Linked DNA regions of Homo sapiens. The protein of the gene in region 1 interacts with the protein of each later gene in a pairwise test. Each region holds a gene or a part of one and is shown in the gene's direction. Other genes may lie near its edges. The genes, in order: ZBTB44, HUNK and ETS2.

The links.
Region 2: the proteins of ZBTB44 (region 1) and HUNK interact in a two-hybrid assay, tested with the Homo sapiens proteins (one large-scale study listed by BioGRID and IntAct).
Region 3: the proteins of ZBTB44 (region 1) and ETS2 interact in a two-hybrid assay, tested with the Homo sapiens proteins (one large-scale study listed by BioGRID and IntAct).

Annotation. Positions count from the first base shown.
Region 1 is NC_000011.10:130,304,874-130,308,524, reverse strand, and holds part of ZBTB44 (zinc finger and BTB domain-containing protein 44), read left to right. Parts: intron 1-3,651. UniProt on the Homo sapiens protein: May be involved in transcriptional regulation.
Region 2 is NC_000021.9:31,921,471-31,925,121, forward strand, and holds part of HUNK (hormonally up-regulated neu tumor-associated kinase), read left to right. Parts: intron 1-2,997; coding exon 2,998-3,290; intron 3,291-3,651.
Region 3 is NC_000021.9:38,819,322-38,822,972, forward strand, and holds part of ETS2 (protein C-ets-2), read left to right. Parts: intron 1-181; coding exon 182-445; intron 446-2,264; coding exon 2,265-2,383; intron 2,384-3,352; coding exon 3,353-3,568; 3' UTR 3,569-3,651. UniProt on the Homo sapiens protein: Transcription factor activating transcription. Binds specifically the DNA GGAA/T core motif (Ets-binding site or EBS) in gene promoters and stimulates transcription.

The DNA of each region.
Region 1 (3,651 bases):
CTACTAGTATCTTATTTTGCAGTAAGGAAACTGGTATCTAAAAGCATTAAATGACTTGCCTAGAGTATCACAATAAGTGGCCGACCCAGGTTTCAAATTCAAGGCTGTTTAGAGTTAGCACTTAGCTGCTTTGCTCCACCTCACAACTAAATGTAACAAGTCATAAAAATTGAATAAATTTTCAGTCACCATGAATACGGAACTACATGACTGATGCTGTAACAACCTCAGAGATTGCAACGGGGATATGTTCTGAGAAATGCGTCGTTAGGCGATTGTGTCATTGTATGAACATCATAAAGTGTACTTAGACAAAACTTGATGGTATGGCCTACTCTACATCTAGGTTATATGGTATAGCCTGTTGCTCCTAGGCCACGTATCTGTACAGCATGTTACTGTACTGAATGCTGTAGGCTTTTGTAATGCAGTGGAAAGTATATGTATATCTAAGCATATCTAAACCTAGAAAAGGTGCAGTAAAAATATGGTATTACAGGGTTGCGCACGGTGGCTCATGCCTGTAATCCCAGTACTTTGGGAGGCGGAGGCGGGTGGCTCACCTAAGGTCAGGAGCTCGAGACCAGCCTGACCAATATAGTGAAACCCTGTCTCTACTAAAAATACAAAAATTAGCCAAGTGTGGTGGCATGCACCTGTAGTCACAGCTACTTGGGAGGCTGAGACAGGAGAATTGCTTGAACCTGGAAGGTTACACCAGTACCATGCTGTTTTGGTAACTATAGCCTTGTAGTATAGTTTGAAGTCAGGTAATGTGATTCCTCCAGCAGTGAGCCCAGATTGCACCACTGCCCTCCAGCCTGAGCGACAGAATGAGACTCTTGTCTCAAAAATAATATGGTATTATAATATGGGACGGTTGTGGTATTTGTGGTCTATCATTGAGGGACACATGCCACGCATGATTGTATATCATTTTCCTTTCTCATAGGTGCGGGAGTTTCTGACCCCTTGCTTCAGAAACTGCATTTAGATACTACTTTAAAAGGCATTTTAAAAGTAGAGTAAAAATCAAGATGGATTGATGGATGGATAGGTATGTGATAAAACAATAACAGTAGACTTTTTTTTTTTTTTTTGAGACAGAGTCTTGCTGTGTTGCCCAGGCTGGAGTGCAGTGGCACGATCTCAGCTCACTGCAAGCTTCATCCCCTGGGTTCACGCCATTCTCCTGCCTCAGCCTCCCAAGCAGCTGGGACTACAGGTGCCTGCCACCATGCCTGGCTAATTTTTTTGTATTTTTAGTAGAGACGGGGTTTCACCGTGTTAGCCAGGATGGTCTTGGTCTCCTTACCTTGTGATCTGCCCACCTTGGCCTCCCAAAGTGCTGGGATTACAAGCGTTAGCCACCACACCCGGGCTACAGTAGAATGTTAATGGTGGGCTTTAGGTATGGCTATTCAGGTATTCAACTATAATTTTTTTTTTTTTTGCTTGTTCTTTGATTTTTTTTTTTTTTGAATGTTGATAGTTTTGGGGGTGCAGGTGGTTTTTGGCTATATGGATAAGTTCTTTAGTGGTGATTTCTGACATTTTGGTGCACCCGTCACCTGAGCAGTGTACGCTGTACCCAATGTGTAGTCTTTTATCCCTCACCCCACTTGCACCCTTCCCTCCAAGTCCCCAAAGTCCGTTATATCCTTCATATGCTTTTGCGTCCTTGTAGCTTAGCTCCCACTTATAAGTGAGAACATACGATATTTGGTTTTCCATTCCTGAGTTACTTCACTTAGAATAATGGCTTACAACTCCATCCAAGTTGCTGCAAAAGCCAGTATTTCATTCAGTTTTCATGGTGTAAATATACCACGTTTTCTTTATCTGCTCGTTGTTTGATGGGCGTTTAGGTTGGTTCTATATTTTTGCAATTGTGAATTGTGCTGCTGTAAGTGTGTGTACATGTGTCTTTTTCACATAATGACTTCTTTTCTTTTGGGTAGATACCCAGTAGTGGGATTGCTGGATCAAATGGTAGTTCTACTTTTAGTTCTTTTTTTTTTTTGAGTGGAGTTTAGCTCTTGTTGCCCAGGTTGGAGTGCAGTGGCGCAATCTCGGCTCACTGCAACCTCTGCCTCCTGGGTTCAAGCCATTCTCCTGCCTCAGCCTCCCAAGTAGCTGGGATTACAGGCATGCACCACCACGCCCAGCTAATTTTGTATTCTTAGGAGAGGTGGGTTTTCTCCATGTTGGTCAGGCTGGTCTCGAACTCCCGACCTCAGGTGATCCGCCCACCTCAGCTTCCCAAAGTGCTGGGATTACAAGTGTGAGCCATCGTGCCCAGCCTACTTTTAGTTCTTAAAGGAATCTCCATACTGTTTTTCATAGTGGTTGTACTAGTTTACATTTCCACCAGCAGTGTAAAAGTGTTCCCTTTTCACCACAGTCATGCCAATATTTATTATTTTTAATTTTTAAATTATAGCCATTCTTACAGGAGTAAGGTAGTATCTAATTGTGGTTTTAATTTGCATTTCCCTGATAATTAGGGATGTTAAACATTTTTTCATGTGTTTGTTGGCTGTTTTTATATCATTTGAGAATTGTCTATGTTTTTTTTAACCCATTTTTTGACAGGATTGGTGGTTTTTGTTTGTTCGTTTGTTTTTGCTGGTTTGTTTGTATTCCTTGTAGATTCTGGATATTAGTCCTTTGTTGGATGCATACTTTGCAAAAATTTTCTACCACTTTGGGTTGTCTCTTTACTCTGCTGATTATTTCTTTTGCTATGTAGAAGCTTTTTAGTTTAATTAGGTCCCATTTATTTTTGTTGCATTCGCTTTTGGTTTTTTGGTCATGAATTCTTTGCCTAAGCTAATGTCTAGAAGAGTTTTTCTGATGTTATCTTCCAGAATTTTTATGGTTTCAGGCCTTAAGATTTAAGTCTTTGATCCACCTTGTGTTGATTTTTGTGTAAGATGAAAGATAAAGATCCAGTTTCATTCTTCTACATGTGGCTTGCCAATTATCCCAGCACTGTTTGTTGAATAGGGTGTCCTTTCTCCACTTTATGTTTTTGTTTGCTTTGTCAAAGACCAGTTGGCTGTAAGTATTTGGCTTTATTTTGGGGTTCTCTATTCTGTTCCATCGGTCTACATGCCTGTTTTTATACCAGTACCATGCTGTTTTGGTGACTATAGCCTTGTAGTGTAGTTTGAAGTCAGGTAATGTGGTTCCTCCAGATTTGTTATTTTTGCTTAGTCTTGCTTTGACTATGTGGGCTCTTTTTTGGTTCCATATGAATTTTAGAATTGTGTTTTCTAGTTCTATAGAATGATGATGGTATTTTGATGTGAATTGCATTAAATCTGTAGATTGCATTTGGCAGTAAGGTCATTGTCACCATATTGATTCTACCCATCCATGAGCATGGGATGTGTTTCCATTTGTTTGTGTCATCGATGATTTGTTTGAACAGTGTTTTGTAGTCTTCCTTGTAGAGATCTTTCACCTCCTTGGTTAGGTATATTCCTAAGTATTTTAATTTTTCTTTGGCAGCTGTTGTAAAAGGGATTGCGTTCTTGATTTGATTCTCGGCTTGGTCATCATTGGTGTATAGCAGTGCTACTGATTTGTGTACATTAATTTTGTATCCTGAAACTTCACTGAATTCATTTATCAGATCTAGGAGCT
Region 2 (3,651 bases), on another chromosome or scaffold:
ACCTGGAGAGTGATAGAATGCATGTCCCAGGGAGTGACAAGACATGCCAGGAGGGAGAGCTGGGAGGAGTTGGGACCGGGTGGTGGTGGGGCTGATGGAGAAGATGCTTGGGTGCTCCCATAGGCAGCAGTGAGACCTCAAGAGCTTCTGCAAGAAATCAGAGTTCTAGACCCACTGATTTGGAGGCAGAGTGTAGAATGAATTCAAGAGGCCAGGAGGAGCCTCAAGAAGAGGTGACATCCATGCCTTAGTTCACCCTGGGGGTGGCCAGACTTTTATTGATTCGTTCACTATTTTGTTTAATTTAAAGTTTGCCTTTAGTTTGGACTTTTTCCCTTTTTTGTTTTCTTTTTGTTTTTTAAGGTTTTCTTCAGCTTTATTGAGGTTTAACTGACAGATAACCGCGTGTGCTTATAGTATGCAGGTTATGATAAGTGAGCATGTTGTGAAATGGTTACCATGGTCAAGCTCATGGACATGTCCATTACCTGACAGGGTTATCAGTTTTGTGTGTGTCTTGAGAACATTAAAAAATCTCTCAGCAATTTTCTTTCTTTTTTTTTGAGATGGAGTTTTGTTCTTGTTGCCCAGGCTGGAGTGCAATGGCACAATCTCTGCTCACTGCAACCTCTACCTCCCAGGTTCAAGCGATTCTCCTGCCTCAGCCTCCTGAGTAGCTGGGATTCCAGGCGTCCACCACCACACCCAGCTAATTTTTATATTTTTAGTAGAGACAGGGTTTCGCCATGTTGGCCAGACTGGTCTCGAACCCCTGACCTCAAGTGATCCACCCGCCTTGGCCTCCCAAAGTGCTGGGATTACAGGCACAAGCCACCGTGCCCAGCCTCTTAGCAGTTTTCTTTCTTTTTTTTTGAGACGGAGTTTTGTTCTTGTTGCCCAGTCTGGAGTGCAATGGCACAATCTTGGCTCACTGCAACTTCTACCTCCTGGGTTCAAGCGATTCTCCTGCCTAAGCCTCCCGAGTAGCTGGGATTCCAGGCATCCACCACCACGCCCATCTAATTTTTGTGTTTTTAGTAGAGACAGGGTTTCACCATGTTGGCCGGGCTGGTCTTGAACTCCTGACCTCAAGTAATTCACCCTCCTCGGCCTCCCAAAGTGTTGGGATTACAGGCACGAGCCACCACGCCCGGCCTCTTAGCAGTTTTCAAGTGTGCAATACATTATTGTTAAGCCTGGTCACCATGCTGTACATTGGATCTCAGACTTCTGTTTTTTTCTTTATCATGAACTATGTCCACAAAATAATATTTGAGCCCCTCACTGAAAACATGTATTCATCTGTATTTATTTACTTATTATTTATTTCTGTACTTGTACCTCTGTGTATGGCATATTGCATATAATGCATATTGAGTGCGTTGTGAAACAGGTACAAAATGTAATTACAAAAAAGAGAAATAACAAGAAATGGAAGGTCCACTGACTTCATCCTGCACCCGGAGGCTCCATAGCTGTGTATGAAGGTGTTCCTGGGATGCTCATGTCTCAGTTCATGACAGGGCATCTGGGCACTGGGGCAGTGGTTGGAATGAACCAGGCGGGTGGTGTAGGGGAACAGAGAGGAAGGACAGGTGGCGAGACAGCTGGAAGAAGACATTGACATCATGTGTTGACGTCAGTGGCTGATCACATTAGAGAGGGGAGTGAAGAAAAAAGAAGGAACAGGGCAGCCGGCGTGGTGACTCACGCCTTTGACGCCGGTGCTTTGGGAGGCTGACAAGGAGAATCACTGGAAGCCAGGAGTTCAAGACCAGCCTGGGCCACATGGGGAGATCGGTCTCTACAAAAAGAAAAAAATTAGCCAGCCGTGGTGGTGTGTGCTTATAGTCCCAGCTCCTGGGAGGCTGAGGTGGGAGGATCACTTAAGCCCAGGAGTTTGAGGCTTCAGTGAGCCATGATTGCACCATGTACTCCAGCCTGGGCAACAGAGAGACTCTGTCAAGAAGGAAAGAAAGAGAAAAAGAGAGAGATAGAAGAAGAAAGAAAGGAAGGAAGGAAAGAGGAAGGGGAGGGAGAGAGGGAAGGAGGGAGGAAGGGAGGGAGGAAGGAAGGAAGGAAAGAAGGAAGGAAGGAAGGAAGCGAGGGAGGGAGGGAGGGAGGGAGGGAAGGGAAGGAAAAGGGTGAATACAATGGAGAGGTGACTTCCCCTAAAGGAAAGAGGACTGGGGACAGATGCGGATTTGGGTGGAATAGACAATCTTCCCTTCCCTCTGTTCCTCCATCCTTCCTTCTGTTCTTCCCTCCCTCCCACCGTACCTCTTATGACAAGTTGATTGTAGGGGCAATGGCCCAGGAGGAGCTTCCTGAGGGTAGTAGAAATGTGATCCTGAGTAACAACAAAGGTTGGGTCCTGACAGTGGGGGCCAAGTTTCCCTAGGAGGCAATTCATCAAGGGAAGGAGGTAGACCCTGAGGCTTGAGGGTGTGCACAGGGCAGGGCGGAGCGGGGGCGGGCAAGGCTAGGGGTGCTGCATCTTTGGGCAGTGTCCCCCAACCATGCCTTGGAACTAAGATTGGGGGAAGATTTAGCTGTTTCTGAAGTGGCTGGGGGTCCTCAGACCTGGAGGGAGATGATGGTGAGTCCTGAGGGGGACTGGGACAAGCCCTTTGCTGGAAGAGAAATTGTTATTTCATCTTCCCATCCTGTAGAAAAATAAATTTGACATTAATCCTGCACTGTGCCTTCCAGACAGCCATTCAGGTTTTCTTAGGTAAATTCCATTGTCTTCCTTAATAATTGGACCTTTTGATTTTTCCTAATGTTGTACCTATATGTGTGTGTGTGTGTGTGTTTGTGTGGTATATGCATAAATATAAATGTGTATATATATATTTTCTGTTGATGCTGTTTTAGGTAAGGTGTTTCTCCTCTGCAGAGACATAGCTAGCATTTTTCTTGGGTTCCTGTGAGTAGCCAAGGCATCGCTATTGTCTGTAATGTCTGATAACAGGCATGTTCTTGTTTTCTCCTTAGGTGGCCATAAAAGTCATTGATAAGAAGAGAGCCAAAAAGGACACCTATGTCACCAAAAACCTGCGGCGAGAGGGTCAGATCCAGCAGATGATCCGCCACCCCAATATCACTCAGCTCCTTGATATTTTAGAAACGGAAAACAGCTACTACCTGGTCATGGAGCTGTGCCCTGGGGGCAACCTGATGCACAAGATCTATGAGAAGAAGCGGCTGGAGGAGTCCGAAGCCCGCAGATACATCCGACAGCTCATCTCTGCCGTAGAGCACCTGCACCGGGCCGGGGTGGTCCACAGGTAAGGGCCAGGCCACGCTGGTGATCGCTGACTGTGTGCTCCGTGGGTGGCACTGGGCTGTGGCACCCTCTGAGCCTCTGAGAAAGGCTGAGCAATTGCAGCCTGTTTTACAATTTGTCTATATTTTAATTTTATTTATTTGTTTATTTTTTTGAGACGGAGTTTTGTTCTTGTTGCCCAGGCTGGAGTGCAATGGCGCAGTCATGGCTCACTGCAACCTCCGCCTTGTGGGTTCAAGCGATTTTCCTGCCTCAGCCACCCAAGTAGCTGGGATTACAGGCACCTGCCACAATGCCTGGCTAACTTTGTTGTATTTTTAGTAGAGACGGGGTTTCACCATGTTGGCCAGGCTGGGAATTTT
Region 3 (3,651 bases), on another chromosome or scaffold:
TTTGTGTAGTATAGTTACCCTAAGGAATAAGCACCTGAGTAGAGAGCATTTTGAGAAGTCTGAGTGGTTCTACACCAGCAGGTGCATGATTGCACTGGTAGTGGTTGGTGATGCTATGGTCGTGCCCAAGACCAACTGTGTCCTGGAGGAATCAAAGTATGTGTTTGGTTGTCTTTGCCAGGGACTCCCAAAGACCACGACTCCCCTGAGAACGGTGCGGACAGCTTCGAGAGCTCAGACTCCCTCCTCCAGTCCTGGAACAGCCAGTCGTCCTTGCTGGATGTGCAACGGGTTCCTTCCTTCGAGAGCTTCGAAGATGACTGCAGCCAGTCTCTCTGCCTCAATAAGCCAACCATGTCTTTCAAGGATTACATCCAAGAGAGGAGTGACCCAGTGGAGCAAGGCAAACCAGTTATACCTGCAGCTGTGCTGGCCGGCTTCACAGGTGTGTGTGGAACTCCGAGAGCCTGGCCGCCCAGTCTCCTGGGTCCTGTCCCTTGCTTCCTTTCGAGCCACAGTACCACATTCACCGAGGGTGTTTCTAAGCTAGGTACACCAGTGCTCTACACTCCATGTTTTATGCGTGGCTTGCTGTATCTCTGAATTCGACAAAAGCCACACTTGGAGGAATTTTCATGTACACAGAGCTCCATGGAATGAGTGAAAATTGACAGGCCACTCCCTCCACCTGGGACGTTCTGAGGAATAGTTGGAGCAGGGGACATGGCCTGTGCAGTCTTCAGCCCTGACTCACCCACTCCAAGAATCTCAAAGAATGTAAACTGGCTTAGGGAGGGGCAGCAGAGCCAGTCTCAAATAATATGGGCACTGTTTACCTTTTCTTGCTTCTAAAATCTATCTGCTCTTATTTTTGAGGTTTGGGTGAGAGCTATTCTAGGCAGTGGACAAATATAAAGCTGTTTTTAGAAACAGGTATTTCCAGTACTTTAGCGAAAATACTGGGGCTTTGTTTTCACTGCTTCGTGTATCCTTAAATGCGTTTTTGTTTTTGTTTTTTTAACCATATGGAGCCACTGTGGATTGAAATTACCTAACTTAAAAAAATCTGATAAGTTTAAAATAAGGATACTGAGGCATTCATTCTTTTTCTGTCATCTAAGAACAATCAGCCACGTAAACGTATTAAAATACACGGAAAGAGTGTGTGAAAGCCATTATCGGTTTCATTATTGGGAGTTTAGGGCCTGAGAAGAATAAACAGCCATAACGTTAGTGTGGTTCATTTTAATAGTAACATAAGTTTCTGTTTATTGACTGCCAACTCTGTAGTTAAGTAGGCATACAGTCTGTAGGACAGCCTGGCATGGGGGTGGTATGAGGCCATTTTACAGATGGGGAAATTGGCTCACAGGCAGACAGCTATCGGTGCTCACACAGCTCTGGTTCTAGAATGCCTGTCCCGTGCTTTACAGCAAAGCTTTATTGATAACGGCCATTGCGTTTCTGAGGAAGAGCTATTTGGTAGAAAGAGGTTGGGCTTAGGGTCGGAAGATCTAGGCTCTTCTCCTGTTTGCTGTGATGGGCGTGTGATCCAGGACAAGGCACCTGGCCTCTGAGCCGCATCTTATCCCTCCTCTTTAGAACAGAACCACACTGACACCTGCTTTGCAAGGTGGTAGTTCTAAATGTCAATCGAGGACAGGTGGACGAGAAGCTCTTGGCAAAGCATGCTTCACCAGACAGAGGCTGTGAGGCAACGGGTGTGACCCCGCGTGGCTATTGAGTAAACCGGGCTCACATTAAGCAATTTACACATGGTCATTTGGCAGGAAGGTGGCATGGGATCCCACGTATGACACGCCTCATTCTGTGATGAAACACCCCCTCAGCCACCCCCATCTCTGCCCCACTGGGTGTTTCTAGAAAAAAACCTTGAAGGTTTTTACATAAGGAACAATTAAACCAGATGGGGAATTTTAATGCCAAGAGTTGGTGGCCCTAAACTTTCTTCCAGAAAGAACAAACCTAGCAATCAAGGGGAAGAGTGTCTCGCCTAGTGACCTTATTTTCTAGGAGTAGGCAGTGTGGAGCAGGAACTCACATTTGGTGCCCCGCCCCATCCCGTTAAAGCACTTAGTACTGTCACCAACACCTTGAGTGCCACCCTGAGTGTAACATCGGAACCCCATTCAGAGAGTTGGGTCTGCATTCCTAAATCAGCATGTACAATTAGGATGGTTAAAGACTTGCTGTATTTTACATCTGTGAAAGGGTATGATCCGTCTCCCTCCCTCTCCCCGCAGGAAGTGGACCTATTCAGCTGTGGCAGTTTCTCCTGGAGCTGCTATCAGACAAATCCTGCCAGTCATTCATCAGCTGGACTGGAGACGGATGGGAGTTTAAGCTCGCCGACCCCGATGAGGTATGGCCAGAGCCCTGGGAAATCTCTGGGCTTGAAAACCTGATTTCCTGCTTGCATTCAAAAACTCAGTTCTTTGGGCACAAAAAAGGGTTCACCAGTACTGCTGAGAATCTTTCCACGTGAGGCATCCTTGGCTGTTGGGAAAATGGAAGTGGAGTCATTGCTTTGTTGATAAACGTGTACAGTGTTTTCTGGGTATGCTTCATACAAGGGCGTTGCACAGATTTCACTGTCTTGATCAGTTGTCTGATCAAGAGGCCCAAGCTGCAAACTGAGGTTCTCTGCTGACCATCTGAAAATGCCTTAGGAAGGCTGCCCTTGTCCATCGGGGGAACAAGCCTCATGTGGCCCCGAGCCAGCCTTCTGTCCACTCCTTAGCTGAGCCCAGCAGTGTTGACCCCAGCCCTGCAGAGTTAGAACCAGGAGCCCTGTCTAAAGGAGAAGGCCAAGGGCAGGTGGGATACCAACCCCGCCAGAAAAGCGTTAGAGAGAAGCCCTTGGTCTCTGGCACTGGGGAGCGTAATCTGTCACCATTCCCACCCCGCCTCCAGTTCCCTTGGGAGACAAGCATTGAGGAATGAGTATATCACACAGCTCAGAATCCCACTCGGCACCTGTTAACTTCAGTAGTTGGAATATCCAGCCTGGAGGGTGGGTGACACCACCTTTCCCTGGTCTCAGGACCCTCCTGGCTCTGAACCCTTGGCTCCCAGGAGGTTTCACTGAGCTGGGGCCAGGGAGCAGGGACCTCATTCCCCAGTGGTTCTGCCCCTTGGGGACACAGTGCCCCTACCATAGGTACTCAAAGGTACTCAGAGGTACTCAAAAGGTCCTCCTGCGGACCTTGTGTAGGTGTCAAGTTCTCTCTAGAGTGAACATGCCTCAGAATCATAATCAGGGAGGAATGTCATTCACTTTTTCTTCATTGACAAATTGAGTTTAACTCTTTTCCATCCATGTTCACCAAAGGTGGCCCGCCGGTGGGGAAAGAGGAAAAATAAGCCCAAGATGAACTACGAGAAGCTGAGCCGGGGCTTACGCTACTATTACGACAAGAACATCATCCACAAGACGTCGGGGAAGCGCTACGTGTACCGCTTCGTGTGCGACCTCCAGAACTTGCTGGGGTTCACGCCCGAGGAACTGCACGCCATCCTGGGCGTCCAGCCCGACACGGAGGACTGAGGTCGCCGGGACCACCCTGAGCCGGCCCCAGGCTCGTGGACTGAGTGGGAAGCCCATCCTGACCAGCTGCTCCGAGGACCCAG